Linked DNA regions of Homo sapiens: regions 1, 2 and 4 are each linked to region 3. The links come from fine-mapping of genetic effects on gene expression. A gene starts in region 3. Each other region holds a variant in brackets. All regions are shown on one strand. Distances are from middle to middle.

Region 1 (8,110 bases), 28 kb before region 3:
CAGTTTAGACTTTAGTATCATGGTTTTGTATTTCTTCAAATATTAAGGAATATTAAAGATTTTTTACAAAAGGCTAGTGTTGAACCATGACAGCTAGTTTTACACACACACGATTTTTATGTCTTTGTGTTCAATAGAGGGCACCACAGCATAGATCATGAATGTCTTCAATGAAGATTTGTAGGTTTTATTTTTTCTTATAGTAAGAGCTAAACAGGCTGAGTTAATTTTTTTTTTCTACATCAAACTGCTAACCTTCCATGTACTATGCAGTTATGTATATATATCATTGTATTGGGTTCAGCAGACCCAGGACATCCTTAGTTAGGATGAAATGATTTTGCATAGCTATATATTCTCAGCTAAACCAGCATATAATACATCTAATAAAATCATGTTGAGGAAAACTGTGCTTTTCAACTGTGTCCAGTTTAGGGAAAAAAAACAGATTTTGCTTTGTTTAGTCTAAAACTGTTATGGGGAAAGGAATAACTTCTGATTTGCACTATAAATATCTTTCTAGAAATTCTTTTAAAATCCTAGAGGCTATTTTTTATTCCTTTTATAAAGGTTTGAAAATCATATACTTTTTAAATGGAGGTTTCTACAAATGACATTTTATTGACTGTTTTACAAAGTACTCTTTATATTAGGTTTGAAATTGATTTTGGGCTATTAGATTTGTTTGTGGAAAATATGGCACAAACATGACTAAGGAAAAAATAGTATTTAATATTATGATGGTGGCAGTCACAGCCCTCTCTGATAGTAAGCCAAATAGTACTCAAAATAAATTAATTATGCTCACCTAACCAGATGGGAAAACACTCTCAAAAATTTTCATTTTAAATTTCAGAATGAACTATCTGACTAAAATAAGCATATAAATACATTTAAAAATTATTTTTGCTTATTTAAAACTCATGGAGTATGGTGGCATGAATTTAGCCAGAGAAACAGAGGAGATTCCAAAAACCAAAACTGTACCTAGCCGACTCACTGGTTTGAACTCTAGGCCTGGGGGAGTGTTCAGATGTCCCCTCCCCAGCCACATCTTTCTGGCTCTTTGGAATTGTGAGCTGGGTGAGCCTGGCTCCTTCTCTTTTCATCTGTGTGTCCTCCAGATGGCAGTATTGAGCAGAAAAAGAAAACGCTGGGAAATAATGAGTCTAATGTACAGTAAAATTGGAAATTGAATTATAGCTCAAGAAAAAGGACAGTAGCCTTGAGGTCCCGATCAACCTGGACTCTGATCACTTTTGTTTGCTGTACCCATGTGTTAAGTTACTAGCAAGTTAATAACAACACGTGAGCAGTTCAAGGCTCAGTAGAATTGCTTCAGACATGAAATAAAGCTAAAATGAATTTGTGTCCAATATCATTGGCATTAGTGCTCATTACTGTTGTGGTGTAATGCCTCAAACCATCTAAAATCAATTTTAAAGATTACCCATTATTTTATAAAGAAAATAAAACACATTTCCAACAGAAACAAAGCCACGAGTACAATCCCATGAACAGTTCCTTGTACTTATGGCAGGCAGGAAACCGCTGACAGAGGCCACAGGAAACACTCTGCTCAGACTTCACAGACTTCACGATCCAAGTTCGTATTAATGGATTGTTGCTCTATAACTCTTCTCTTAATCTGAAGTATTTAAAAACAAGAATGGTGAATATTTGTAAATGTAGAAAATAAATCTCAAAGAGTAGTAAGAGGGATTTACTACTTAGCTACTTGTACTTGGTAAATTAATCATTATCATGTGACATGGTCATCTTTTGGGAGGACCCAGGGCGGAGGACACAGAGGGAAAAAGAAGGATTTAGCTGCTTTGCTTGAGGTTTTGCCTTTTAAAAAGCACAAAGGTTTTACTTTTCCTTCTAATAGACCAGTAAAGAATATTTTCTCAAACTGTAAACCTGCTGAAGCAAAGGGGACAGCTAGATTTTGGTTTTAATACTGTGCATTTTTAGGCATTTTTGCCTTTGTTAAGAAATAATTGTTTTATTTTGTAGAAAAGGATTTGGTATTATAATGACCTTGGATTTTCACTAAATTGATATTAATGGCCAAAAGAGATTTACTTTCCTTATTACTTGTTTAAACAAGCAGAATATAAGGTAAGGTTCATTTGGTCTGAAATACATGATCTATTTTTCACAGATCGTTATATCGGAAAAATCTTATGTTGGACAAAATTCTACTTGGGTTTTAGTGTGTTAGTTTTGTCCCCTGTATCTGGTCTTAGTGTCTCCTCTTACATAATTATTGAACTATCAGTAGAGACTAAATGATCATATGTCAACATCTTTGCTAAAAGATAAACCAGTTTTTATTTAAATATAAAGGTATACTTTGATTTGATTTCATATTCTAAGATGTGCATTTCAGAGAAAACACATTCACTAATATGAATTTGAGCATCTGTAGATTTTGCTACAGGATAGTTTTTAATCTTCCATGTAGTTCTGATGCCCTGGTTGAAATCTGTTCTGTCTTTGTAAACTTTGATCTTAAATGTGGGAAGAGCAGTATGTATTCATCACAAAATTATCATATTTTAATTATATATATGGTAAAGTTGGCTGGGATCAATTTTATTTGGTTGCTCATTTTGACAACACAGAGATTCAGTGCTCCTAAAGATTTTGGAGAAATTTACAGTTAACCTTAAGTATTAAAAAAAGCCATCTCTCTCATGAGCTGTCGTAAACATGCCCTTAAGTATATAACTGTAAAGTTTTAAAATGTAAAATATGCTGAGAATTGTATTTTCTTCATATAATTTTTAATAGTAGTTGAAAGTTTTGATGTTTCATGACAGCCTATCCCATAAAGATCACTGAATTGACATGCTGTTGGCAGTAAATTTTTTAAAGTAGAATAACTTTCTATGACTATATAAGCAAAATATTTCCATAATTAATCCACATGGTAATAAGAGATGGGTAAATTGAAGAAATGTCCTTGAAGTTATTCTTTTAACAGATGTTCTTAACTATTAGCTTCATGTTTTTACCCACCTAAATTTCCAAATAATTGAATAAAAGTTAACATATGCTTTCCTCCCCTTAATGGGCAGAGCCCATAATTGATACAAAGTTTACCACAGTAGAGAAATTACCTTCAGTGGTACTTTTCTAATGTTTTTCTTTCTTCTACCCTATCACTGACCATCCTGTTCACCAATTATTTTTCCTTTTTTTTTTAATATAGAGTCCTACAGAATGCACTTTTGCTTTCAGATAGCAGCCTTCACCTCTTCTTACAGAGCCATCTGAATTCAGAAGACATTGAGGCGTGTGTTTCTGGGCAGACTAAGTACTCTGTGGAAGAAGCAATTCACAAGTTTGCCTTAATGAATAGACGTTTCCCTGAAGAAGATGAAGAAGGAAAAAAAGAAAATGATATAGATTATGATTCAGAAAGGTATTTCCTTGCATTTTGATTTAATGTATATGTATTTATATAATACATAGTATGCACATATGCACGTGTATAGATATATATACACACTTCACTTTTTTGTTGATATAATACTAAGATAATGAAA[AAATT/A]AATTGACTGAGATTTTATTGAGCTGTGACAGCTCATCATAGTAGTCTTCACACACACCTCCACACTGAATTAATGAATGCAGTAGAAATTCAATTATTTGCATTCTGATTATGTGACTTTCATTTAGTCAGACTTGAATTATTCGCGTTTAAATTATCTAGCTAAAAAAATACCCAACTGCACTCCAAATGGCTAATTAAAAGTCCAAATTTCCTGTCTCTCTTTGTGACTGGAGATAATTAAAGTTCTCCTCTGTTACTCAGGCTTTGAGTGTGTTGTGAAAACCAATTTCCTCTTTTTATTATTTTCCCCCTCTCTTCTTTTCCAGTTCATCCTCTGGGCTTGGACACAGTAGTGATGACAGCAGTTCACATGGATGTAAAGTAAATACAGCTCCGCAGGAATCCTGAAAAATAATTCTAATGTTACTATCTTAGGAATAGCAAATTATGTCCAGTCATAGAGAAGAAAGCTTCATAATAATACATTCTTACCTAAAGCTCACTGTCATGATGTTAGGTATTTAAATTCTTAAAGATGTTGGGTTGTTTATTAGTGGTATTTTTATGTTGTCTTATTTTAGGTAAGCTTCTGTGTAAAGCTAAAAATCCTGTGAATACAATACTATCCTTTACAGGCAGACATTATTGGTAAACAAGATCTTGCCCTCCAATGAAATGACTTACATGTTTTAAAAAACCGAGTTGGTTTTATTGAATTTAAAAAGATAGGTAACTAAGTAGCATTTAAAATCAAGATAGAGCATTCCTTCTTGTATCAGTGGGGCAGTGTTACCATAAACACGGTGTATATGTTGTTAAACCCTATGAAGAGTAACAGTGTAGACCAGACTGCCTCTCTCAGATATGTGCCTGATATTTTGTGGATACCTCCCCTGCACTGGCAAAACACTATGCTTTTGGGTGTTAGACTGAAATATTTTAAGAGTATTTAACCTTTCCAGTATTCTGTTTCACGCTTAGATGGAAATGTATCTTATGAATAGAGACATATTAAAATAATGTTTACATCTTAGAAAAAACATAGATAGTGCTAGTAATATTACTTATAACTGTAATATATAGATTCAGAAATACATTTTCATTATCCAAAATCAGCTTCAACAAATGGTTTCTGGAGACAAATAATTTGTTTTCATTATCATTGTATAATCAGGTTAATGATTTATTTTTTGACTAAATGTGCAATTTCTTATCACTAGATAACTTTCAGTATCAGTGGTGGTTACTTATTACTTAAATCAGAGGAAGGATTTTATAAAGATTAATAAATTTAATTTTACCAATAAATATTCCCATAATTTAGAAAAGGATGTCGACTTGCTAATTTCAGAAATAATTATTCATTTTTAAAAAGCCCCTTTTAAAGCATCTACTTGAAGATTGGTATAATTTTCATAAAATGTCTTTTTTTTTAGTGTCCCAAAGATATCTTAGATAAACTATTTTGAAGTTCAGATTTCAGATGAGGCAACATTTTCTTGAGATAATTACCCAAGTTTCATCCATGTTGAATGGTACAAAATATTTCTGTGAAACTAACAGGAAGATATTTTCAGATAACTAGGATAACTTGTTGCTTTGTTACCCAGCCTAATTGAAGAGTGGCAGAGGCTACTACAAAAAGCAACCTTTTCATTTTCACTAAGAGTTTAAAAGCTATTGTATTATTAAAAAGTCTTTACAATGCTTGTTTCAAAGAACCAACAGAAAAAAAAGCTAAGAAAACTGAGAACTAACATTAAAAAAATTAAATTTAGAATAAGAATGATTTCTTTAATTTGTCCTTTTTTTCTTTGGTCTAAAACATTATTAAATTTTTGTAAATATTTTGATTTAATGTGTCTTAGATCCTCATTATTTTAATACAGGAAAAGAAAAGATTTAGTAATTTCTTACCATGCTAATATGTAAAGTTCATGCCATCCAGGCATTTAAGAGCGATCCTCATCCCTTCAGCAATATGTATTTGAGTTCACACTATTTCTGTTTTACAGCAGTTTTGAAAAACACATACTATGCCACCAATTGTCATATTATTTTTAGATGATGTAACATAGCCATCAAAATTAATATTATGTAATGCCTAATACTTAGTATGTAAATGTCACGAGATCATTTTTACATTAAACGTGAAAAAAAATCAACTTTGCCGGATCACTTATTTTATACAAGAGAATATATTCTGCCTTAGACCCAAACTCAGTGTTTTTTATTTTTTATGAGGAAATTTGGTAAAACATGGTTTAATATTAGCTATAGTTGTACATATTTGAGGCTTTTAGCCTTGGTTTAGTTGTTTCAATGTCCACACACTGGCTTCTTAAAACTGATTTCTTGCAGCTGAGATATTTAGATGAACTTCAGTTCCCAGTGGTTTTCTTGCTTTGTCTCTTATTTTTCTCTGGCATATTTTTTATAAAGCTTTCTTTAGGAAAAAGAAAATAATTACTGATGTAGCTAACTTGAATAGATGTTTATTTAACACTATTTTTAATGTGACTTAAATGTAAAGAATTCTAATCCTGGATTCTTTATGATTACAATACAGCAAAACTGCATTTTCCCTGGCTGATTCTTAAAGGGTAAACTATTCACCTATAAAGCCAACTTACGTGTTTTGTTGTAGAACTAGATTTATATATAACCCAAAGGTGTCAACAGCACTGAACGTCAACAACCTGTTACTTCGGCTTCTTATAAAGTCTCACTTAGAAGAAAGTTACTTAATTCTAGTTAAAATTTCAAGTTTTAAAAATTACTAGGGACAAACAAGTATTTATTTTTAAGCAGATACTATTCCTTAAGATATGAAGTATCTTGCCAGTTTTTCAAACCTAGTCCACATTTTATTGAATAATTAAATACAAACAAGTGATATGCAGTATAAAGTAAAAGAACAAAGTTTCTTTTATGACAATTAAGAAGTTAAACAACTTCATTTAGCCTGGCCACAATAACCGTTATATCCAACAGTAAACTGGACGTTGTTTTGAATTTGGTTTGTATTTGTTGGATGCCTTAAGGATTCATTATTATTGAGCTACTGTGATACCAATAAGGTTTTCAGTATTTGAGCTATAAAAGACAACCCCTTTTCATTAGAGGCCCCTTAACATTTTAAACGAAAATAACAAAGCTTATTCTGTTTCTAAATAGTCTTCCTCTTAATATTTAAATTACTTAGCTGGTATCCTGTGAATACAAGGCAACATCTTTTCAATGAAGGAAACAATTTCAGTACAATTTTGTGTTTTTGTTTGGAATATAGACCTTTTCTTAGTTTATTATATATAAACACATTTTCAAATACAAAATACTGTCTGAAATTAGTTACTGCAATTTGACATTCAAAGCATAGAATTTTCTTTGCAAATAAAGGTCATAAGAAATTAATAATTTTAATAGAGTGGAGTTCAAAAATTTCAGAAGGATGTAAATAAGCAACAATTTCTTTAACATTTGCTATATATACAAAGGACTTTGGTTCTATTCTTTGCCATATGCATCTTACAAACGAGTCACCATTGTCCCTTTTTAGCAGACACAATTGCGCTTCACTCCTACTGCAAACTTTTCTAGATCATGAGCAGTGCATTGGACACTAATTTATTTTAGCTGCGCAAACTCTGGTAGTTAATGACCCTTTCTCTTTCTCCAAAATTCCAAAGACTTCTTTTCAAAAGATATAGAGGAAAAGAGAAAAAAAACCATTAAGCTACAATTTCCTGCTGAATTTAAACTCTGGTCTAAAGACACTATGTAAATGGCTTATGCTAAAGAGGAAAATACCCTTTCTCCCCCGACGAGAAGTGTAGATTCATCCAACCCCACACCGCTTGTCTTTGCTGCTAGAGGCACAGCACGGGCATAACTTGTGGTTGTGTTTTTGCTAGTTTCTTACCTCTGGGCCTTCTTTATAGCTTTGCCCCCCACCCCACTGGCGGTGGCGCTCCCGCGGCTGCACCCTCGGCCGCCTGTTGGTTGCGGCGCCTCCGCGGCCCGCGCGCATCCCCCGCGCTGCGTCCCGCACACGCGCGCTCCCGCCGCGTCCCGCCCGGGCCGCTCCGCTGGCGGCGGCGACTGGGCTGCAGGTAGCGAGCCAGCCGGCCTCGGTCCGGTAACCCATGGCAACCGCCCTGGTAACCCATGGCAACTGCGCGGCGGAAAGAAAAAAAAGAACCGTGGTGGGGCGGGGGGCGGCGGGCGGTGAATGGGAACAACGACCGCAAAGAGACAGCGATTTACCGCGCGGGCCTGCGGCTCCCGGCCGCACCTGCTGCAGACGGCCCGCGAGGCCCCTTCCCGCGCTACGGTGACGATTCTGGCTGCTGGGGAAAAGAGCAATAAGCAGAAAGCCCTCGTGCAGAGGGGATCCGGGCGGTGCACTTGGTGTGGGAGGCTGCCTTAAACGCCGATGACCCTCCCGGCCTCCGCGTGTCCCGGCTTCCAGGGCCCCGCCAGGCTGGAGAGCGCGCGTGGAGAGGGCCTTGCCGCCTGGGGGTTGGTTGAGGGGCGGCCGCGCCGG
Region 2 (8,110 bases), 43 kb before region 3:
GTGGGGAGACAGAGTCTTGGTCTGTCGGCCAGGCTGGAGTGCAGTGGCACGATCTCAGTTGCTCACTGCAACCTCCGCCTCCCAGACTCACGCAATTCTCCTGCCTCAGCCTCCCGAGTAGCTGGGATTACAAGTGTGTGCCACCACACCTGGCTAATTTTTGTATTTTTAGCAGAGACGGGGTTTCACCATGTTGGCCAGGCTGTTCTCAAACTCCTCACCTCAGGTAATCTGCCTGCCTTGGCCTCCCAAAGTGCTGGGATTATAGGCTTGAGCCACCACGCCCAGCCCACACTGGTAAATTCTATAATCATTAGTTGTATGGAAAAGTACCTAGCGCATTGTTGTTGCACAATATATTTTAAGTGAATGAATGAGTCTCCAGTGTAAATACATGAACATGTAAAACACTACTTTGAAATAGGAAAAAAAATGTCCCAAGAAAAAGAACAAACTGAGACAAGTTTACATTTTTATGTTAGAAAATTCTCATCAAAGCTATGAAAAATTAGTATTCACTTAACACCTAGACATTCTGCTTTATTAGCTTTCGTCTTTTGTGATCTTTCTGTAATCTAAGTAAATATTTTTACAGTTAACACCTACTCATCTTTACTGTGCTACAAAGATTCAAACTAAGCTATGATGGAAAATTTTAAAAAACACACCTATCACAATGGCTAAAATAAAAAATAGTGATAATCCCCCTGGAAACTGTAATAGGTATGTATGATATATCATTGTAGGGTTAATTGTATTTCCCTAGTGGTTAACGATGTCGAACATCTTTCTACGTGCTTGTTTGCCATCTGTATGCCCTATTTGGGTGAAATGTCTCTTCATATCTTTTGCTTGTTTTCTAATTGAATTCTATTTTTTAAATAAGAGTAAGTGAATGAGTGTTTTGAGACAGGGTCTCTCTTGTTGAGGCTGGAGTGCAGTGGTGTGATCTCAGCTCACTGCAACCTCCCACCCACCCACCAGGCTCAAGCAATCCTCCCACCTCAGCTTCCTGAGTAGCTGGGACTACAAGTGTGAGCCAGTACACTCAGCTAATTTTTAATTAGTTTTTAAATGTTTGTTTAAATGTTTGTTTAATTAGTTTTTAAATGTTTCACCATGTTTCCCAGGCTGGTCTTGAACTCCTGAGCTCAAGTGATCCTCCCACCTTGGCCTCCCAAAGTGCTGGGATTACAGGAGAGAGCCACCTCACCCGTCTGATAGTTTTGTTTTTTTTTAAAATATATTCTAGATGCAAGTCCTTTATGGGATGTGTAGTTTGCAAATATTTCTTCAATCTTTAATTTGCCCTTTTAACCTTATTCACGGCATCTTTTGCAAAGCAAAGATTTTTAGTTTGGTGAAGCCTAATTGATCACTTTTTCCTTATGTGGATTGCCCTTTTGAGATAAGTTGAAGAACTCTTCTCCTAGTCCTAGGCCGAAAGATTTTCTTTGATTTTTTTTTTTTCTAAAAGTTTTTCTAAAAGTTTTCTCTGATGTTTTGTGTTTGACATTTACATCTGTGGTTTGGTTGGTGTTGATTTTTGTATAAGGTGCACGCTTTAGGTTGAGGTTCATCTCTTGGCCTGTGGATGTCCAGTTGTTCCATAATCATTTGTTGAGAGGCTTTTCCTTCTCCTTTGAATTGTTTTTGCACCTTTGTCAAAAATCAGGTGGGCGTATTTGTGTAGGTCTCCCTCTGGGTTTTCTGTTCTCTTTCACTGATCTTCTGTGTCTATCCCTCTCTAGGACTCCATTGTCTTGCTGCTGTAGCCTTAACATTGGGAAGAAGGCTTCCTCCCACTTTATTCTTTTTCAAAAATTTTTTGGCTATTCTAAGACATTTCCCTTTCCATATAAATTTTAGAATAAGCCCATCTATGTCTTCAAAAAAAGTCTTGCTGAGATTTTTTATAGGAATTGTGTTAAACCTACAGATCAATTTGGGGAGAATTTCTCTCTTTACTATGTTGCGTCTTCCAATTTATGAACATAGTGTGTCTCTGCTTTGATTCCTTTCAATAGCATCTTAGATTTTCAGCATAGAGGACCTCTGCTTTTTAAAAAATCTTGTCAATCAGTTGGTTAATTCTGAAACATTTAATATGCACTTACTATGTGCTAGTACCATGCTTGGTGCTAGAAATACAAAAATGAAATACAAAGCTTTAAGAAGCCAGAAGGACAGAGTTTGAGAAGAGCATGTTGTCTGAACTGGCATTTTAGCTAATAAAAGCAGAAAAAACTTCCCCCTCCAAAACAATACAATTACAGTGAAATTGGAAATTGCCTAATATTTATTATTAGTAAAAGAATCACGAGATAGAACATGTTTGAGAGTACAGTCTTTGGAACAAGGCAGATCTGAGTTTGAAACTTAGCTCAGGCTGGTCATTTGACTTTGGGCCAGTTGCTTAAGCTTTAGAAGCCTCATTTAAAAAATCTGTAAAGTAGGATGAGAATATACTGAGCTCTGAGGGTTGTTGTAAAGATTGAAGAAAACATTTGTGAAACGGTATAATGCCTGCCACATGTCAAGTGCCCTGGTATAATACAATACAGTTATTTTTATTATTAGTTTCATCTCACTTAAGGGCTAAGGAAAAAAATGATAGGGTAGAAGTGGATAATGGTCAAACCTGGGGTGTGGGGATGGGGGAAAAACAGGGAACATTGAAATCAAAGGCTGATTATTATAGGATAACACAGGAATTAGATCTTCAAAGAGTCTAGGAGTCTTTCTTTAGAAGTCTGTTTTCACATGGAGAACAGCAGGGACAGTTAGTCTAAATTTTTAATTCCACTCTGCCTGGCTTTCTCATACTACATATAGTCATTAGGCCCAAGAAGTCATTAAAGTGTTTAATAAGGTTATTAAATTGACTAACTGCAGCTGCTGAAGCAATTTTCCTAGGAAATCCATATGATTCTAGGTAAGGGGCTGTGGAACTGTCCTCTGTGGCTGACAGCCTGTCAACATTCCTTTGAAGGATGGCGGGCAGTGTCGTGAGGGATGCGTCTAATTAAGAGATTAGAGGTGAACCTTGGCTTCCTGGGTGTGCTATTTGTAGCTGAGAGTATGGGGAAACTTCACTAATTCCTACTAATTGCAGAGTGGGGGAGGAGGAGACCCATGTGAATTATAGAATATTTTAAAATAAATGTACTTTTATTACTTTCAAGTACATATTTTAACTCCCACTAGGCCAACAAATTGTTGCCTGGTACAAGTCTTAGGGGACTAAGTTACTGAAGCTATCAGAAGGATTTTCAATTATTTCTATGTAAATAGGTGCTTCTGGAGTTCTTTAGGGTGCTAGAAAACAGTTTGTTCTCCCAGATCTTAAACATTGCTCTTGGATCCTTATGCTGTTAATTGGCACATCCTTAGAGGAAGGGGTTTGTTAAATTAAGATAAACTTAGACCAGCTGCTAAATAACTTATCATTAATTCATGGAGCCCAAGAACCCAAGTAGATGAGGTTTTAATTTCAAGTGAAGTTTGATTTTCCTTTCCTGAAGGCAGTTTGTTTATTCCTACAGGCATTTATTTATTCATTAAATGATACTAATGGAAGGCATTGGATGTATGAGGCATTCAAGTCTTACAAGACAGCCTAAGCTGCCCTACAGGAGCTTAGCGTCTGCTAGAGGAGGCCTACAGGTAATTACAATACAGCACAGTAGGATGTGGTGAGTAGGGACTATGCCCAAGGCAATCCCAGAGACATTAGGGGCCCAGAGGAGGGTCAAATAAGTCATACTGGGTGAATCTGAGAAGGGTTCCCAGAAAAAGTGGTGACCGAGTTGCATTTGAAAAATGAATTGGAGTTGGCAAAAAATAGTAGAAGAAAAGAGAAGATTAAAAAAAAAAAAAAAAAAAGGCAGTAGGGTGGCCTAGCAATCCAGGCAGAGAACAGCTTAGTTAAAGGCATGGAAGTGTGAAGTGGCATGTTGCTTATGGGGACCTATGCTTAGCCTTTGAAGATAAGCAGAGTGAAAATCATGAAAGGCTGTATTGTGCTAGCTGAGGAGTTTGAACTTGAAGGTTATGGGGCAACCTTTGAAGGATTTTCAGAAGGAAAGCAACATCATCAGATACGTGTTTTGGAGCCATTCTTGTCTTCATGTGGGGAATGCACTGGATATGGGCCC[C/A]GAAATAAATTAGCAGTTCTTGCATTAATGTTGGGCAAGAGGTCCTTGAACCAAGGCAGTAGCAGAGGGAATAGTTGTCAGTGGTTCCAAGGAGAATGACTATGAAGGACTTGGTCTGTGTGGATTTGGGGAATGAGTCAAACAGAGGGGTCTAGGAGAACTGGGTTTCTAGCTGGGGTTGGTGGGAGATGCTCTTCACTGAGAAGGGGAGCAGGATGCTGTGGGAAGGGTATGGACATGGCGTGCTCAAGGGACTTCTAGGTGGATCAGGCTAGAGGCTGGATCCATGGGAGAGGTGCCTGCACTGGGATGGAGCTTTGGGTGGGGTCCATCAGCTCATGGGAGGGGGTTGAATGTGTTTGGATGAGGTCACCCTAGAATTGCAATAGTGTGCAAAGAACAACAGCCTGGGTTGGCTCTCAGGCACAGAAACGTTTCAGGATGCAGAGAGGGAAGAAGTTTGCCATCCACAAGAGAATAGTGATATTTAGCACTCCAACCAAATTAAAGATTTTCAGGATTGAAACAATATGTGGAGTCTTAGTGCTGCAATGAATTTTGAGTGTGCATTTAAAAGTTTAAGAGACACACACACATACACGGTGACAAGAGATGGAGGTGAAAAGCATAGGCCAAGAGCAGAGTACCTGGATTTTTGCTTCTGTTTCCATCCCTGGGCAGAATCTGCTTTATCACACTGTGATTAGGGGATATTATGGATATTTGGTTTAAAAATGGTTTTTAAATCCCTCTTATAATTTAGAATGTGCTTTTAAGAAATGATGGTTGTCTCTTAATGCGCATGAAAAAAATAAAGAAATAGAGAAGAAGAAATACTGGCTGGGGCACAGTGGCTCATGCCTATAATCCCAGCACTTTGGGAGGCTGAGGCAGGGGTGTTGCTTGAGCCTAGGAGTTCAGAATCAGCCTGGGCAACATAGCAAGACCCCATCTCTAAAAAAATTAAAAAATTAGCTGGGCATGGTGGCACCCGCCTGTAGTCCAGCTACTGGGGGCGGGGTTGGCTAAGGTAGGAGGATCATTTTAGCCCTGGAGTTTGAGGCTGCAGTGAGCTGAGATCGTACCACTGCACTCCAGTCTGGGTGACAGAGTGAGACCCTATCTCAAAAAACAGAAAAAAGAAAAGAAATAATGGCCAAAGAGCATCACTATAGTGTTATCTTGTGTTTTTTTTTTTTTTTTTTTGACCAAGTCTTGCTGTTGTTGGCCCGGGCTGGAGTGCATTTAGTGGCGTGATCTTGCTGCAACCTCCGCCTCCTGGGTTCCAGCAATTTTCCTGCCTCAGCCTCCTGAGTAGCTGAGATTACAGGCGCCCAACACCATGCCCAGCTAATTTTTGTATTTTTAGTAGAGATGGGGTTTCACTATGTTGGCCAGGCTGGTCTCGAACACCCGACCTCTGGTGATCCACCCGCCTCAGCCTCCCAAAGTGCTGGGATTACAGGTGTGAGCCCTGCCTATCTTGTTCTTATTCTATCCCCTAAATGATTTTAAAAATACACAATGAAAATATTTTAAAAGAAGACTTTTTGGAACAGTAATTCATAATCCCTGTCTACTAAAGACAAGTAGTGGGACAGAAGTCTCCAGTGCAAGGACAAAGTGTTGCCCTAGAAGGTGAAACTTGATAGGGGCAAAAGTTATTTTCAGAGTGTGGTGTATTTTTTTGATTAAAAAAAATCCTCTATGATGAAGAGTCTCATTTAATTATCTGCATGATTCAATGGAGGTGCTTTGTCCAGAAAGCCCCCGATCTCTCTTTTTCTTCTGCTCTCAAGCGTTCATAGCCTGCCTCTCAGATGTGCCCCAACAAGCAATAAGAAATGCCTGAATTCCAGCATTGAACTCCCAATCTTATCAAAAAGCTCTAATATTTAAAATCAAACTCAGTTAGCAAGTTTATGATCACTGAGTAAATAAGTTATACTTAAAAACTTATGTGAAACATGATAGTTTTTTGCTGTACATTTTCAAATTTTTAAACTAAACCTATTTAGTAAAGAGCACCTGTTAAAAAGTATTGTTTTAATTTTTTTTTTTTTTGAGACGGAGACTTGCTCTGTCGCCAGGCTGGAGTGCAGTGATGCGATCTCGGCTCACTGCAACCACCGCTTCCTGAGTTAAAGCGATTCTCCTGCCTCACAAGTAGCTGGGACTACAGGCACACGCCACCACGCCCAGCTGATTTTTGTAGTTTTAGTAGAGACAGTGTTTCACCATGTTGGCCAGGATGGGCTCAATCTCTTGACCTTGTGATCTGCCCGCCTCGGCCTCCCAAAGTGCTGGGATTACAGGCGTAAGCCACTGCGCCCGGCCTATTGTTTTAAATTTTGCCCCATGTTTTCTATTCTTATTATCTTTATAAAAGAACAAAATTATCTACTGTATATGATTTTTAATATCCCTAACTTCTATGTATAACACAAAGGTATTATGAAGATGAAATGATTTAATGTAGGGGAAATGTATTTTAAAAATAGAAAAGTATTATGTAAAAGAAGGTGTTCCTCTTTCTATTAATAAGTTATTATCGCTTATTCTCATGTGGCTGGGATGCATGCACAAAGTCAACTTCAACCCTCTTTGCTTACTTTTCCCATGAGCTTTGGTGTCCTTTCTTTTTCTTCTTTTGATACAGGGTCTCGCTCTTTTGCCCAGGCTGGAGTGCAGTGGCACAATCAAGGCTCACTGTAGCCTTGACCTCCTGGGCTCAAGTGATCCACCCTCCTCAGCCTCCTGAGTAGCTGGGACTACAGGCATGCACCACACTGCGCCTGGCTAATTTTGTATTTTTTGTAGAGATGGGGTTTCACCATGTTGCCTAGGCTGGTCTCAAACTCCTGGGCTCAAGAGATCCTTCCAAAGTGCTGGGATTACAGGTGTGAGCCACCCTGCTTGGCCTGGTGCCTTTCTTATTTGTGTCCTAGGAAGCACCTTACCCAGAAGGGCCCATTGTTTCAGTTTAGAGAGATGAAGAAAGTAAGAAATGATCACTTTTTAAATTTGAAAAAAACCTGAACCAATTATTTAAGATTAAAAATTAAAAATCAGTTTTACAGTATACTTTGTCTTCAGATAACCAGTAAAACTATCCAGAAGTGCTCCCACCTCAGTGTTGCATTATTTTAAAAATTCCATTATGTGGCAAAAGTGTGTTCTAGATTTGCTCGTGGTGCCTGATTCATTAACTTTACTTCTTGTTTTTTAAAGGATTACAAGTACCACATTGGTTAAAGCTCATTTCAGTTTTGTTTTAGTGCAGTCGTTTTGTTCAGTTCTTTCCAGTCCTACTTGCAGTTCTGAAGAATATTTCTTTGTTTATGATGCCATTACAGGAATTTGTAAGTGTCTGGGTTCGAGATCCTAGGATTCAGAAGGAGGACTTCTGGCATTCTTACATTGACTATGAGATATGTATTCATGTAAGTATGTAGTCAGTAGAAATAGTAATTTTGAGGGACTTTTATGGGATACATTTTATGGGATAAAGTTGACACTTGTAAAAGTTTTTCTCATTCAAATAACTGAATTTGAATGATTACAACTAATGCTTTTATCTTACATGAACTAGTAAGATGGTTCCTAAAGTTGAAAAATTACTTATTTGAATCCCTTATTGTTCCTTTGTTAATATTAACATTTTAATGTTTATTGCCTTCACATGTGAAGATGTGCACGCATCTAAAATGCATGGGTAAAGAGTACTTATAGCTCATTAATGGCATTTCTTATGATCTGCTATAGCATATTTCTGGATAATATAATGCCTGATAACCTTCAAGTTTGAGAGGATATAGAGTTCTTTGGAAAAGAGATGTGTGGTGTTTTATATATAGAATCAGAAGGTGGGAAATGGATATGTGCAATTATTGTGATTAATTTATCTAGAATCTGAGTAATTAATGTAACGAGTAAGCAACTAGAAATGATGT
Region 3 (8,110 bases):
AGCTTTATTTTATCACATCTGACAGAACAGCTCAGCCTTAAGTTGGGAGTAAGATTTATACAATTCTGCTGATAATATTTATTACTCATTTTAATTGTTTGCATGGTAATATTGAAGCCCCCCAACTGTTAGGAAATGTGCATTATTTTAACAATACTGGGTATCAGTAAATAAAATATGCTAAATATTGCTGAAAATAAACACTAAGTAACTCAATTTGTGTCATTATATGTGAGGAATGGGAAAAGCTTCTTGGAAGAGGTGATATTTAATCTGGACTTGGAAAGATCGGTGATATTTGAACAGTTGGACATGAAGTTCAAGGGCATTCTAGAGAATGTCATGGGAGAGGAAATGCAATAGCATGATTTGGGGATGTACTGTAGTAGACAAATAAGGCTGGAGCTGGGTTAGGTGCAGATTGTGGAGGGTCTTAAATGTCTTGCTAAGGGAGTGTGGAGTGCCTTTCCTCAGCAGTGGGGAACAGAGATATTTGAGTTAGTTACTGTGTATTGATTCCAGATAAACGAATAAAGCATATAGTATGTATATATTTTTTATAGTTTTTTTGGTATATTTTCATGAAAAGTGTGTATGATTTTAGTGAAACCATAAAAATCCATTTTCATTCCAATTTAGATTCTGTTTTAAAGTAGTTGCCAAGGAAACTAGTAAGTGACTGGTTATGCCCGATTTTCCCTAAGTTCAAAATTAGATGCAAATTCTTCAAAGAGACTACTTGAAGGCCAGTAAACATTTCAAAGGCAGTCAAGCTCAGACGCCTGGGTGTGTGGGTGCAGGAGGGTTAGAAGGGGGGTTCTGATGTTCCTGGAGGGAAGAGATGCCTTGCCTGTGTAGGCAAAGAGCTACTTTGAGGGAAAAAAGCTGAATGAGTTAGAGGTGAGTGCCCAGGAAGAGAAGCTGGAAGTGAGAGGTTCCACTGAAGTGCCTAGAAACAGACACTCTTTAATGGAGACAAGACCAAATTTCTGGAGTTTTCCTTTGTTTACATCTTTTTATCTTGTCTCGTTTCAAAAAGGAGTTAACTTTAAATATGTCCCTGAATAAACACGAGGCAGCATGACTCCATCGCAGGTAGAGATAGGACTAAAACATGATTCTCCTAAACTTTAACCCTGGAGTTAGCTCACTTAATCCTGTAAATCTCTGCAAAGACTAACTTTGTTCCCTGGCTCCTCCGTGGTTGCCAGGTGGTGGATATACATTCTACAACAGAAGAAACTGGAATCGCTAGAGGTGTCTTTTTTTAGGGCAAGGAAGCATTTCCCAGAAAACCCCAACAGATGTCCCCTGGCTTGGCCTTGGCCAGGACTGGTCACATGCTCTTTTCTAAGCCAGTGCCTGGGCAAGGGAAGGGGTTGGTCATAACGGATTTAGACTACTTAGGATTTACTTCTGGGCCAAGGAGAGGGAGGGGGTGAGGGAGGGGGTGAGGGAGGGGGTGAGGGAGGGGGTGAGGGTGGGGGCGGGGGGCTGGCCCGGCCTAAGATGGCTGGGGGTGATGCGTTCGGGGGACAAAGGAGTGCTGGACAGTTGTGTGAGCTGTAAGAAGGACCCGGAAAATACTGCAGAGTGATTGAGAGTGTAGAGGGGCCTGGGTTCTCACCTGTGCTCCCTCCCACCTTAGCTGGGTTATGCTGGGAACCTTTCAAGGCTTTGCTAAGCCTGGGTTTCCAGGAGTGCAATAAGATCGCTGTGATAAACATGTAGGTAAAGCAGTTGGCATAGTACCTTGCGTAGAATAGTCCTCAGCATATGTTTACTACTGTCGTTGTTGCTATTAATAAAAGTGACCTAGCTCCTCTCCTCGAGAAGTTCACAAGGGGCCCAAATGTGACAGGGGGAGCTATCAGAAGGCGGGAGGTGACTTCTTGCCAGGGAGCAAGCCAGGGCAAGAAGAGAGGCGCCGTGAAGCCTGCGTTCCCTCCCGCACGCGGCTTGCCTCGGTGGCCACACGGGGAGCTCAGCAAGGCCCAGGGTTCGGGAGGCGGGTCCTGCACAGCGACGCAGCCTTGTCCCGGTGGCCGCAGGCCTGGGGAGCAGGGCGCAGCACACCCGCCGCCCGCTTGCAGGCGAGACGAGAGCGGGGCGCCGGGATGCTGGCGTCCAATTTAACCACCAGGGCGCACGGGACGGAGGCCGGGGGTCCCGCTTTTCCGTCAGAGTTCGCGGTCACGAGTGGAACCCACTGAGCACTCTAGTTTCCTGGTATTTTCATGGCAGTAATTGGATGACAGAGTCAAGAGGCAGGGCCTGCGCCGACACTGACTAGCAACGCGCGGCCTCTGAGCCGCGCCCGGCCGCCCACCCCTTCCTCCTCCAGCACCGGGCCGGCTCCCCCTCCCGGCCCGGCTCGGCGGCTGGGGGGTGGGCGGAGCCGCGGCCGGGCAGTTCATTATGTTGGACAGGGCGCGTCTGCGCCTCCGGCCGCCGCGGCTCCCGGGGCCTCCGCCTGCAGCCGGCGGCGGAACGAGGGCAGGCGGCTGAGACAGGCGAGCTATTTGCATTCCCCGGCAGTCATTTTTATATGCGGAGGTAATGAAGTTGTCAGCGGCGCCCCGAGTGTGGCAGAGCCTGATATTCAAATCGCCCTGCCCGCTCCGCCTGCTCCCGCCCGCTGGTCCCGGGAGCCCCAGGCTGCGCGCGCCCGCACCGCATCGCCGCTTTGCCCCGCGACCGCGCGCGCCTCCTCGTCCTCCCCCGCGCCTTTGTTTCCGTCTCCTTCTCCTTTCCCTCCTCTTTTGTGTCGGGCCAGACTCAGCCCCAGAAACCAGCCACCCTGCCGCGTCCGACTGCCAGGGATCCCTCACGCCGCGAGGTGAGCTGGTCGCAGGTGTGGGGAAGTTCGCGGGTGCAGCTAGGCCGCCGCCCTCGCGCTCGACGCCACGCCCGCCTCCTCTTTCCTTCCCCAGGGGCCCCTTGCCCTCCCTTCACCTCCGTCTCCAAGAAAGATGACCTAGTACTGCCATTACCGTTTGGGCCTAGAGGAGTTTTCGTTCCTCTTTCCGAATGCATATTTGTGGTCATTTTTTATGATTGCAGAAACCCAACACACAGCTATTCTGTCAGGCTGCCGAGAAAAGGCTGTTCGGCAGTTGCAGCCCTGGTGAGGCAATGAGGAGGAAAGGTGGACGCACCTGCCTGGAGTGGTTGAAGGAAGGCAGTGAACATCCACGCTCCTGGGGTTGGTTTTCCTGAACCTCTGTAGCTGTGCTGCTCACTGGGGCAGCCACTGACCACAAGAGGCTGCCGAGGGCTTGCAGTGTGGCCAGGCCAGACCAGGATGTTCTCCAAGTGGGAAATACACACCCCATTGTAAAGAAGACTGTATGGAAAAAAGAATGTGAACTGGCTCATTCATCATTTAAAAACATTGATTGCATATTGAAATGATAATATTTTGGGTATATGGGGTGAAATAAAGTATCATGAATTAAATCTTTTTTTAAAAATGTGGCCACAAAGAACATTTAAATTTACACATGTGGTTCACATTATATCTCTGTGGGATCGCACTTAAGACCCAACCCCACCCATCCTCTAACTCTGCCCTCTCAGCTTGCTCTACAGGTACTTTGGAACAGGGCAGGGATGGAGGGAAGGTCCTTGTATCTTAGGGATCAAATGCCCAGGAAAATAATTAGGAGGTGTTTGGGATTATGCTGAAAACCCTGACAACACTGAATAGCAGATGTCTCTTTCTTTTCCCTTTGTTCACTGTAAAGAAAAACTTACACTCCCCCACAGCCATGCCACAATTCCATGGACCAACCATTCATGTGTGAAGGTGGGCCTCTAGGAGTGTTTTGTGCCTTTTAGGAGTTATTTGTGGCACACTAAACTTGCTGACATGCCATTTAGAAAAGTGAATACTGTGTACGCACTGTAACAACTATTCCATAAGTATTTTTGGTGTACACTGTTCCTCAGCACTCACAGGCTTCGGAGTAGGGGCTCCCGGAGTATGCATTGACACGATGCGCTGCAAATGATCCGGGCGTGGGGAAGTCCCCGAGTGTGCATTGATTCCACACACGGCCACGGCTCCTACAGGGCTTTTATGGTGCAGCTCGCCAATGATCCGTGTGTTAAAGACTCCCCAAATACACATTGACACGATAGACTGGAGTTGTTTGGGTCTATCGTGGCAATGATCCGGGGATAATGGCAGTGTCTTATACAATTTCACTGAGATTGGAGTGCTCATGGTCCTAATGGCAGAACCGGAACTGCCCCAGTTAAGTCCCACCATGGCGCCCAGTAAAGGGTGTGTGGGTCTTTGACCTTCTGCTTCATGACACTGTGGCATTGCTAATTTTACTGATATTTTAACTAACATAATTGAGTTAGCATTTTTTTCCCCCTGAAAATTCATTTTTGTAATTCAACACCTGAATTAGGGAGTCCATCTAGTGATGGTTTCATTTGGTTAATCATAAGCTAAAGACCTAGGAAAGGTCATTCTTAAACCTAAAGTGTTTTGGGAAAAATAATCGTGGGAGATGCATATGAGCTTGAGACAGAGTTAATATGGAATAAATAACCTCAGTCCTGAGAAAACCTAGTTGGCTAGGCTGAAATAGACAAGATGAGAAGGTGGGAAGAAGATGTTTTTAAAAATAATGAAAGTAACATATTCAATAAAAATAATTCAAACACTGTAGAAGTGTATGAAATAAAAAACAGAATCCTCCCACTCCTTCCTTCCTTCTTTCTATACCATTCACTGTTACAAGCACTATTAATATTTTTGTATATTCTTCCAGTAACTTAAAAACACATGCAAATATATACAGTCATGCATCTCTTAATGATGGGAATATGTTCTGAGAAATGCATCGTTAGGCGATTTCATCATTGCACGAATATCAGAGAATGTACTTATACAAACCTAGATGGTGTAGCCTACTACCCACCTAGGCTATATGGTATAGCCTATTGCTCCTAGGCTACAAACCTGTACAGCATGGTACTGTAACAGAATACTGAAGGCAATTGGCCAGGCACTGTGGCTCACGCCTGTAAATCCCTGCACTTTGGGAGGCCAAGGCTGGCCTTCAAGACCAGCCTGGCTAACATGGTGAAACCCTGTTTTTACTAAAAACCCCAAAATTAGCTGGGCTTGATGGCATACACGTGTAGTTCCAGCTACTCAGGAGGCTGAAGCAGGAGAATCACTTGAATCTGGGAGGTAAAGTTTGCAGTGAGCAGAGATCATGCCACTGCACTCCAGCCTGGGCAACACAGCAAGACTCCATCTCAAAAAAAAAAAAACAACACTGTAGGCAACTGTAACACAATGGTGAGTACTTATGTATCTAAATGTAGAAAAGGTACAGCAAAAATACAGTATAAATGGTAAAAAAAGAAAAAATACAACTGTATAGGGCACTTACCATGAATGGAGTTTGCAGGTCTAGAAGTTGCTCGGGTGAGTGGAGTGAGTGGCGAGTAAATGTGAGGGTCTAGGACATTGTGTATACTAGTGTAGGCTTTATAAACACCGTACACTTAGGCTACACTAAATTTATATTTAAAAAGGTAATTGCTCTACAACATTGTGATGGCTATATTGCCACTAGGCTATAGGAATTTTTCAGCTCCATATTAATCTTATGGGTCCACTGTTGTATATTTGGTCCATTGTTGACCGAAATGTCATTATGTGGTGCATGACTGTATATCTACTCTTTGTTTACACAAATGGGTTAATGCTGAATGTTAATCTTCAACATCTTATATTTTCAATTAATAATACAGTCATGTGCCCCATAATGATGTTTTGATCAGCAATGGACTGCATATACGATAGTGGCCCTGTAAGATTACCGTGGAGCTGAAAAATTCCTATCGCCTGGTGATGTCTTAGCCCTTGTAACATCTTAATGCAACACATTAGTTGTGTGCTTGTGGTGGTGTCAGTGTAAACAAACCTACTGCGTTGCCAGTTATTTAAAAGTATACCACATACCACAGTATGCCACATTATCAAGTACATAATCCTAGATAATAACAATAAACAACTGTTACTAGTTTATGCATTTACTATACTATTTATTATTATTTTAGACTACTTTCTACACATGCATACACACATATTTATACACACATATATGTATAAAAGTTAACTATAAAACAGCCACAGGCAGGTCCTTCAGAAGGATTCTAGAAGAAGGAATTTTAATAGAGGAGATGGGGGTGGGCACGGTGGCTCACACCTGTAATCCCAGCACTTTGAGATGTCAAGGTGGGTGGATGACCTGAGGTCAGGAGTTCGAGACCAGCCTGGCCAACATGGTGAAACTCTATCTCTACTAAAAATACAAAAATTAGCTGGGTGTGGTGGCAGGCACCTGTAATCCCAGCTACTTGGGAGGCTGAGGCAGAAGAATCGCTTGAACCCAGGAGGCAGAGGTTGCGGTGAGTGGAGATCATGCCATTGCACTCCAGCCTGGGTGATAAGAGCAAAAAAAAAAAAAAAAAAAAAATGAGATGGCAGTTCTATGCACTGATGACCTTACAATGGGACAAGATGTGGGGATGGAAGACAGTGATATTAATGATCCTGATCCTGTGTAGGCCTAGGCTAATGTATCTGTTTGTGTCTTAGTTTTCAACAAAATATTTAAAAATTAAAAACAATAAAAAATAAAAATTTTAAAAATAGAGAACAGCTGATATAAATAAGGATAAAAAGGAATTAAATAATTTTGTACAGCTATACAATCTGTGTTTTAAGGTACGTATTATTACAAAAGAATCAAAAGGTTAAAAAAATTAAAAATTTTATAAAGTAAAAAGTTATAGTAAGCTAAGTTTATTATTGAAGAAAGAAAATAATTAATAAATTTAGTGTGGCCTAAGTATACAGAGTTTATTTATTATTTTCACTTTTTATTTTTTTGAGATGGGGTCTTTCTATGTTACCCAGGCTGGATTAGAACTCCTGGGCTCAAGTGATCCTCCTGCCTCAGCCTCTTGAGTAGCTGGGATTACAGACGTGCATCACCATTCCTGGCTAGAGTATAGAGCTTATAAAGTCTATAGTAATGTGCAGTAATGTCCTAGGTCTTCACATTCGCTGTCTACTCATTCACTGACTTACTCAGAGACACTTTCAGTCCTGAAAGTTCCATTCATGGTAAGTGCTTTATACAGGTGTACCATTTTTAATCTTTTTTTTTTTTTTGAGGTGGAGTCTCGCTCTGTCGCCCAGGCTGGAGTACAGTGGTGCGATCTTGGCTCCCTGCAACTTCTGCCTCCCAGGTTCAAGCGATTTTCCTGCCTCAGCTTCCTGAGTAGCTGGGACTACAGGTGCGTGCAACCATGCCCAGCTAATTTTTTGTGTTTTTAGTAGAAACGGGGTTTCACCATGTTAGCCAGGATGGTGTTTATCTCCTGACCTCATGATCTGCCAGCCTCGGCCTCCCAAAGTGCATTTTTTATCTTTTATACTGTATTTTTACTGTACATCTCCTATGTTTAGATACACAAATACTCATCATTGTATTACAATTGCTACAGTATTCAGTACAGTACCATGCTGTACAGGTCTGTAGTCTAGGAGCAATAGGCTACACCATCTCGCCTAGGTGTGTAGTAGGCTCTATGATCTAAGTTTGTGTAAGTATACTCTATGATGTTTGCACAATGATGAAATCACCTAACGACACCTCTGTCAGAAAGTATCCCCATCATTAAGTGATGCATGTCTATTGAACTTTACTCCTTCTTAGCACATTTAGATCTGTGGCGTCCTTTTAAATAACTGCATGGAATTCCAGGGTATGGATATAACAATGTTTAGATGTATGCTATTTCAATCATTACTGCAGTGAATATCCTTATAAGTCACATTTGAAAATTTGTGCAAGTATGTTCATAAAATAAATTTTTAGCAGTGGAAATGGAGCTAAAAAGACGTACATTAAAAATGTTGATATATATTGCCAAGCTGATCATCTTACACACCGACTAACAGTATGTGTGCTTAGTTTCCCACTCCAGGCTAACGTTTTATCGTGGAAGACACTTCTAATGTGTGACAGTGAATTTCCCGCCGATTTCTCTGCATAGCTTTATGGTGAGA
Region 4 (8,110 bases), 20 kb after region 3:
TCCCATCTGTAAATGGGAATAATAGTAGTACCTACCTTATAGTGTTGTTGTGATAAGTACTTGAATTAGTATACATTAAGTTCCTGAAACAGTGGACAGTACCGTAATATAACATGGTTGGTATTTATTATATTATAAAAATGTTTACTATTTTAATAACATATCATATATATAAATTTGATATAAATAAATTGAATCATACATGTTATGATTCAAAGGAATTGTTTAGTCAATTATGATTAAGTGTGTGGCAAGTTGGCCGGGCACGGTGGCTCATGCCTTCAATCCCAGCACTTTGGGAGGCTGAGGCGGGTGGATCACAAGGATCGAGAGCATCCTGGCTAACACGGTGAAACCCTGTCTCTACTAAAAAATATAAAAAAATTAGCCGGGTGTGGTGGCGGGCGCCTGTAGTCCCAGCTACTCGGGAGGCTGAGGCAGGAGAATGGTGTGAGCCTGGGAGGCAGAGGTTGCAGTTAGCCAAGATCGCACCACTGCACTCTAGCCTGGGTGACAGTGTGAGACTCCATCTCAAGAAAACCCAAAAAAACCCAAAAAAGCCTGTGACAAGTCACTTTCTTTCCAGGTCCCTAGAAATGCAACATTTTTTTCAATGCCCAGGGAAGTTTTGCCCAGCTTGCCTCTAATACAGCAGCCATATTGTAGCAGAGGAATTGTTTTATGGGTTGCAACATTTAAATAAAAGCTTATTAATTAACTACTCAATTCCTTCTGAGGCAGTTTGCAATGGTTTTATTTCAATGTATACTGAAGGGCATTCTCACTTCTGCCTCCCACTGTGTTAAACATAACAGACATTGAATATACACTTATAGCATTGAACTAAGATAAAAATGTTTGTTTAGGCTTGAACTTAGTTGACTTAACTTCTATCATTTGTTTAGAAATTGTCATTTCTTTGCTTTAAGAGCTGGAAAAAATTGCACTAAATAGCAACCTATTTAGACATTTTAAAATACAATTCTTCTGCATGAATTATCCCCATAGAGGTCCGGTTGTGTCTGAGTTTGCTAATGAATCGAGTCACACTCTATTTGTGTTGATGGATTCCAGGCTTTAACACTCTAAGGCTGTTCTTCTAATGTAGGTGTGTGTCACATGTTGTGTTATTATCCACATAGTTCTGAGCAGTGTGAATCGTATGGATATTGGAGAGGTACTTTTTTTTATCTCCTATATTCAAGCTGGGAGTGAAGGGAAAGCAACTTACTTGCTGTCAGTTCCTGGAATTTTTTCTACCCATGCAAGTAGTAGGGCATTGTCTCAATTTATGTTCTACTATTGATGGAGCCCCTACACTGAACTTTCTGGGAAAAGCCAGGAGCTTACTCCTAGGAAGACATCAGGATGAAGGCTCATGACCAGCTTAACATGGCTCTCTGGCATTTCTATGAATCAATCCTTTTATTGACCCCAACCAGGGCGAATTTGAAAGCAGGATCCTTTCAAAGCCCTGGCCTCAAGTTATAGTGCACCCAATTTCTGACTTTATATTCCTATCTGTTGTAGACTTTCCATGCTTTCCTATAGTGCTTATCACAAAATCAGTTGTCCTTTGTGTTTCTTTTCCTGAGTATTTGCAGGAATGAGTCAGATCTTGCTTGTAATATATGGGGAGCCTAGAGGAAAATGGTGTTACTTTACGAGCCAGCCAACAATTCCTTTCAGGGAGGAGACTGCCTGCCACCTTAACGGAAGCATTTGGCTATGAAGATAAGGCCCTCAGGAGATAGCCTGGACAGTCTGGAGCTAGACTGAGAGAGAGCACACTACTCTGTGGAAGATGTTTACAGGAATTTGGGGGCGGGTGGAGAGCAGAGGAGAAATAAGAGAGGAGAGGGTTGAAGTGAGTGAGAAGGCAAGATGGCGGCAGACCCTGGGACCTAATGAGAGCCTTAAGCAGATGGAAAGACTGTGCTTCACGAGAACTGAGGGGTTTTCTGGGGGTGGAGGGATAAATCAAGTAAAAGGGGTTACATTCAAAATCTAGGTTGGCATGGGGCAGCTATGGGAGACGAGACACAAGTGAGGTCAAGAATCCAGCCAAAAGAAGCCACTGGAGATAGGGAAGTGACCATGAGAATATAAGCTGTCAGGAATTCTCAGACATCTAGGGGAAGACATTGGCCCTTCACAGGATGTGGGAAGGAGGCTTCAGCCAGTTTTTGTTTAAACCTCAAAGCAGAGAGTGATCTCAGCTGATAGCTGTATTATACATTTGTACCAGGAAAAAAAGTGTTTTTGAGTTAACACATTTTTGGAATACTGTTACAGAGATGAATGAAACCTTAAAGTAAATTTTATGACTTACATGTCTCATAAAAAGAAAGGCGTATCAGCAGCGTTTAAAAAAAGTTATTTTATAGGATTTTTTTATTCTAACGGATAGAGATTGTCTTTGGAGAATATAAATATTCTAAAGATTTAATGAAGTTATCTGAAGCCACATAGACATTAATTAGAGTTCTGTAATTAGAATTATAGTTATAGAAGCTTCTTGCTGCAAAATAGAGGGTAATATTTCAATATTTCAGGTTTACTGTGCTGTTGGAGCACAGTACCTGATGCATTTTCATATACCATGGCTTCAATAATTCTTTCTAAATAAGCATTTTGATAGATATTTAATAGTTTTAAAATTAATGTTGGGGTAAAACCCATTTTTATTTGTGCTCATCCCAGCCCTCCTTCTCTCACAAGCAGCCCGTCTGCTTTCTGCGCACAGAGCCACCCAAACCGATCATGACACTGAATCCAATCAGAAAAGCAGCATAAAGATGAAAGGTCTTACCAATGAGAAGTGAACTTGCTAAAGTACACCTTTCAATGAATTTGGACAAAACTGAAAAATGTTGTTGATATCAGATCCTTAGGCTGATTACTGAAGCGTTCGATTTTTCAGCATGTCAATTCATCACTGTCTACCTGGTTATATTTAACACTTTCTCCTGTTTCCAGCATGTCTGCTGAGACAGGCAATTGCTGTCACATGATATCTGCCTCTCAAGAAGGTCAGCAGACCATTGGGAGGCCGTGGTTTCTGTCCTCCAGCTGCCTTGATTCTTTCTCAGGTATTACTGACAGCAGATGGAGCCTCAATGTCTTGCAGGATCTAAAATATTAATAAGATTAGGGCTTTTATCCTTCAAACAGTTTAGCCTTTCCTTTTAGAGGCTCTGCACAATGTCTCATCTGTTAATTTATAATACTAGCTCTCCAGGAAGACCTGACACCACTTACGGATACCAAAATACCACTTTGCCCAGAGTCCCTCTTTTTCACTTCGTCAGTGTGCTGGTTCACGTTTTAAATCACGCTCATCTTTCAGAGACATTTGGAGGAGTTTAATTCCAGTTTGAGATGAGAGGTCTTGGGGTGCGTTTTAATAAATATTTGATGGGAATGCTAGCCTTGGGGGGTCATTCTTATTTACAAAATTAGAGATGGCATCTCTTAGGAAAGCTTAACTTCGTGGAAGAGGCGGTGTTTATAAATGCGCACAGCACTCTCATGCACGGGGTGGCCGCCACTTTTCAGAACACAGTAGTTATCCACGGTTCCATTTTTAGAAGCAGTGATTAAATTGCAGAGCACTGCTGTGTGATACCAATTACAATAACCATTGTCGATTCAATTGTCTTTTTTTTTAATGGAAAGCAAAATTCACTTTTCTGCATATAGCCTACAAAAATACATATATCATATGGTATGCAATTTAGATCATTTTAAAGGGCTGTAATGGCATTAGTTTAGATATCCCATTCCAGTCAGGCAATGAGCATCAATTTTGTTAATTAAGAATTTTAGGCTCTGTAAATTTATAGTACAATTACACTTTACTTCATATTGAAGAGGGTCTTTACCCCATGCCACCATTAGAAAAACGTCCACTTATATTATTTGCTGACGATTTCACAGGCAGATAAATTTCACAGGAAGCATTACCATTTCTTTTTTTGCATTGAAATTTCTTATTGAATGCCAATTGTCAGCAGAATGCAACCATGAAGACTTTTGA[G/C]TTAAATTTTTCTCTTTTCTTTTCTTCTTTCTTTTTTTTGCTAAAGAAAAAGCCAATTCATCAGGTAGGAAAGGACTGCTTTTCGTGGTCCCAGGTCCTGCCAGAGACAAATGACTGTAAAAATTTAAAATCAGTTATTAACAGATTAGCTGTTGGTCCAAAGTAAATAGCTTATTAAGCATCAGGCAGAGTGAGATAAAGGGGAAGAGTTATTGAAAATGAGGATGTTGTCTGGGGCTCTGCTTGTGGGGTAGCACAGGAGGAGGCTATTGCTTTGTGACTCTAATTACAAATGGAAAACAAGGTAGTTGGCTGAAAAAGTTGAATCCCTCGTTGTGTTAAACAGAGTCCTGTGGTTTTCTGTTCTACGTCATGGCTTTATTCACCTTGATTAGCATGGAAGTTGGTTGTGCTCCCCAGCTGTTCTCCTCTTTGCCTTCTAAGCAAAATCTGTCAACTGCTGTTCACTCAACCCCGCAAAGCAGCCCAGAAACAGTGGCTAAGACTCCTTAGTTTCAGGAACTGGACATTTCTTACCCCTTTGCACTAGTTCACATCTCATTATTGGTTAGGTTGGGGTTGTGAAGCGAAGGGATGGCTCATTAGCTGCTTCCCTCTAGGTTCAGATGTGTGAGCTACTATTAGACAGATGCCACAGTAATAATTGTTGCAGGCAAATTCCACCATTGAATGCTAAAATCAGTGGTGAAGGTTTGAGGAGAAACAGGATATTTGCATAGCTTCAAAGTATCTTTCCCAAGATATGTATTAATTACAAAACAAAAACACTACCATTACAATGGTGAAACCCAACAGATAGCCCCTTAACCAAGTGATCAAGGTTAACTTCACTAGTAACCAGATGGTGTCCCCCAGACCCCCGGCCCCTTCCCCAGACACGATGCACTGAGAAGGGCACACGTCATTTTTGTGGCGTTCTTACTAAAAATGTATAATCTCACTCTAGTCATGAATAAACAGCAGACAAACCTGTTCTACACACTAACTGGCCAGTACTCTTTCAAAGTGTCAAGGTCATAAACGTCAAGGAAGACTAAAGACCTGGTACAGACTGGAAGAGACTAAAGAGACAAAATAGTGTGGGATTCTGGATTGAATCCTACAACAGAAAAAGGAAGTTAGTAGGAAGCTGGATGAAAGAAGTTAGTAGAAAAACTGGTGAAATGCAAATGAAGTCTGAGGCTTAGTCAGTAGTACTGTACCAGTTAAATTCCTGGCTTTGGTAATGATACTCATATAGTCAGGATGCTTTGGCCCCTCCAAATCTCATGTTGAAATATGATTCCCAGTATTGGAGGTGGGGTCTGGTGGGAGGCGATTGGCTCATGGGAGGGGATCCCTCGTGAGTGACTTAGCACCATCCCCCGGATGATGAGTAGGTTCTTGTTCAATTAATTCATGAGAGATCTGGTTGTTTAAAAGACTCTGGGACATTGGTCTTCTTTTTTTCATGCTCCCACTCTCGCCATGTGACATGCTGGCTCCCTGCTGCACTCCGCCATGATTTTAAACTTCCTGAGGCCTCACCAGAAGCAGATGCCAGCACCATGCTTCCGGCAAAACCTGCAGAACTGTGAGCCAATTAAACCTCTTTTCTTTATAAATTACCCAGTCTCAAGTATTTTTTTTTTTTTTTTTTTTTTTGAGATGGAGTTTCACTCTTGTTGCCCAGACTGGAGTGCAATGGCCCAATCTCAGCTCACTGCAACCTCTGCCTCCTGGGTTCAAGTGATTCTTCTGCCTCAGCCTCCCGAGTAACTGGGACTACAGGCGCGTACCACCACGCCAGGCTAATTTTTGTATTTTTAGTAGAGATGTGGTTTCACCATGTTGACCAGGCTGGTCTCGAATTCCTGACCTCAGGTGATTCACCTGCCTGAGCCTCCCGAAGTGTTGGGATTACAGGCGTGAGCCACCGCTTCCACCCTCGAGTATTTTTTTAATAGCAATGCAAAAATGGCCTAATACAGAAACTATGATTGTGTAAGATATGAGCTTTGGGAGAAGCTGGGTGAAGGAATACAGAACTGTCTGTACTATTTTTGCAACTTTCTTAAAGTTATTTCAAGATAAAAAGTTAAACAAAGGGAAAGATGCACTGAAAGAAAAAATACTGCATAAGCTCCAGAAGCTTCTACTGCAGAACCAAGCCTGTAGTCTGGGTTAATTTGAACTTTTTATCTTACACAGTTATGCTTGATTTTGGCCAAAGCTTGAGTAAACCATAGCTTTTGATGGAAAAACAAAACAAAACAACTTTTCTTTGTGTGGGGTCCTTCTTCACAGTTTCTTATTGTGAATAACTTCTTTATTGATAAGTGCATTCAGTAAGGCAGGCGGAGACAATCCCAGTTTGTGGAATGTGGGATTCCAGTTTGTGTGACTTGGATTCCCAGTTTGTGTGAATTATATACTATGTTAGTTATTCTCATGCATCTGCAGGCTGGCCAGGGTCGGCTCTGCTTCATCCTGCAGGTCTGGGTCTGCTCTTTCTCAGATCAAGGATCTAACTGGGACACAGTCTTCTCAAGGTGAGAACAGAAACTCAAGAGGGCAGGCGCCACTACACAAGCACATTGTAGCCTAAGCTTGCGTCCTGCCTGCTAACATCCTGTTAGTCCAAGCAATTCACTTGACCAAGCCCAAAAGTCAGGGCGGTGGGGATGCAGTACATTTGTTTGTGGATGTATCTAATCTAGCATAATACTTCTGGCCTATGTTGCCTCTCTCTGGCCTGCTTTCTGGGCCCTCTTTCCTTGCTTAAGTGCAGATATTGAAAGATTGGCTTGCCCCGACTGATCTGATTCAGTTTCATGAGGGCTATGACTGCTTGGTGGTCTCCCAAAGTGAGAATGCTCCCTCCACAGTACGAGTGGGGTCTTAGAACACTATTTTGCACACTGAGGTGTTATAGAATTGTTTTGAGACCCCCCCCTCAGTTCCTACACAGGTATGTAGACACCATCAGCTTAGCTGAGGCAGGTGCTCCAGGTACCAGGCCTGCCAGTTTTCCAAGATCACCACTCATGTCTGGCTCTCAGGCCCTCTGCAAAGAGTGGCTTGTCCTGCCAGACCCCATGCCACATGGCGAACTCTCTCCTACCATCTCTCATCTCTCTCACAACCTGGCTTCTGGTGCCTTGAGACATGTATGCAATTGTCTGACCAACAGCTATGAAAACAAAGTTCAAGTTGATTGACTTGTTTGTTTGGTTTTTCCCCAGGAGGTTCCTCAGCTCAGTTCCTATTTACACTGGTGGCTGTAAATAGTTAATTCTCAAGAGACTTAGTCCTCTGTTCCAGACAACTAGTGTCTTGAAGTAGAGAGAGTATCTTACTTATGGTCTATCCACTGCAGTGAGTGGCCCCAAATAGTATAAATTGTCAAAAGGCATCTGTTGAACAGAGATAAAATTCTGAGTCCTTCATAATCTGACCCAGTCTAATTTCCCTGGACTCTCCAACATTTCTCTCCACTAGACATTGTCATTTTTCTCATTGTCCCTCAAGTCCCGTACCATTTCTAACCATTACCACAACTTCTCAGTGTCCTGGTTGCCCTCCACTCCACTCAACCCTGGTTGGCTGTCAGGGCTCACCTGGAGCTCACCTGCTGCAGGAAGCCTTCCTGAAACTCACTCACTGCAGAAAGGCTTCCCAGCCACTCCTGCCTTTGATGAACTCTCTCTTTTTCTTTTTTAATTTTAAATTTTTTTAATTTTTATTTTTTTAAAATTTTTTATTATACTTTAAGTTCTAGGGTACATGTGCACAACGTACAGGTTTTTACGTATGTATACATGTGTCATGTTGGTGTGCTGCACCCATTAACTGGTCATTTACATTAGGTATATCTCCTAATGCTATGCCTTCCCCCTCGCCCCACCCCACAACAGGCCCCAGTGTGTAATATTCCCTGCCCTTTGTCCAAGTGTTCTCATTGTTCAATTCCCACCTATGAGTGAGAACATGCAGTGTTTGGTTTTCTGTCCTTGCAATAGTTTGCTGAGAATGATGGTTTCCAGTTTCATCCATGTCCCTACAAAGGAC

Alleles and levels. Alleles are on the strand shown, and positions count from the first base shown. SD is a standard deviation of normalised expression in the study named.
For the expression in substantia nigra of the gene that starts at base 3,236 in region 3, A is the low allele of the variant in region 1 and AAATT is the other (small effect, 0.33 SD a copy in GTEx).
With allele C in place of A in region 2, the expression in subcutaneous fat of the gene that starts at base 3,236 in region 3 is lower (moderate effect, 0.43 SD a copy in GTEx).
As copies of C replace G in region 4, the expression in pancreas of the gene that starts at base 3,236 in region 3 goes up (moderate effect, 0.57 SD a copy in GTEx).

What was found. PIP is the estimated chance that this variant, and not a neighbour inherited with it, causes the effect.
Region 1: its variant is fine-mapped to the expression of SNX10-AS1 in substantia nigra (GTEx, PIP 0.96).
Region 2: its variant is fine-mapped to the expression of SNX10-AS1 in subcutaneous fat (GTEx, PIP above 0.99).
Region 4: its variant is fine-mapped to the expression of SNX10-AS1 in pancreas (GTEx, PIP above 0.99).

The regions. Positions count from the first base shown.
Region 1 is chr7:26,368,601-26,376,710 of GRCh38, forward strand. It overlaps SNX10 (sorting nexin 10), which reads left to right. Exons shown (of 7, transcript NM_013322.3): 6 at 3,221-3,433; 7 at 3,891-5,783. The coding sequence ends at 3,972. SNX10-AS1 (SNX10 antisense RNA 1) reads right to left here. Exons shown (of 2, transcript NR_136272.1): 2 at 3,419-3,968. Among named protein-coding and RNA genes, the nearest start is that of LINC02981, 26 kb to the right of the region's middle. RefSeq lists a silencer at 8,080-8,110. The variant AAATT/A (reference allele first, on the strand shown) is at 3,558.
Region 2 is chr7:26,353,462-26,361,571 of GRCh38, forward strand. It overlaps SNX10 (sorting nexin 10), which reads left to right. Exons shown (of 7, transcript NM_013322.3): 3 at 7,514-7,600. Among named protein-coding and RNA genes, the nearest start is that of LINC02981, 41 kb to the right of the region's middle. The variant C/A (reference allele first, on the strand shown) is at 4,158.
Region 3 is chr7:26,396,183-26,404,292 of GRCh38, forward strand. It overlaps SNX10-AS1 (SNX10 antisense RNA 1), which reads right to left and starts at 3,236. Exons shown (of 2, transcript NR_136272.1): 1 at 3,159-3,236. LINC02981 (long intergenic non-protein coding RNA 2981) reads left to right here and starts at 2,387. Exons shown (of 5, transcript NR_148502.1): 1 at 2,387-2,839. RefSeq lists enhancers at 1,523-2,479, 1,554-1,793 and silencers at 2,264-2,723, 2,814-2,923.
Region 4 is chr7:26,416,382-26,424,491 of GRCh38, forward strand. All of the region lies in intron 1 of LINC02981 (long intergenic non-protein coding RNA 2981), which reads left to right. Among named protein-coding and RNA genes, the nearest start is that of SNX10-AS1, 21 kb to the left of the region's middle. The variant G/C (reference allele first, on the strand shown) is at 4,040.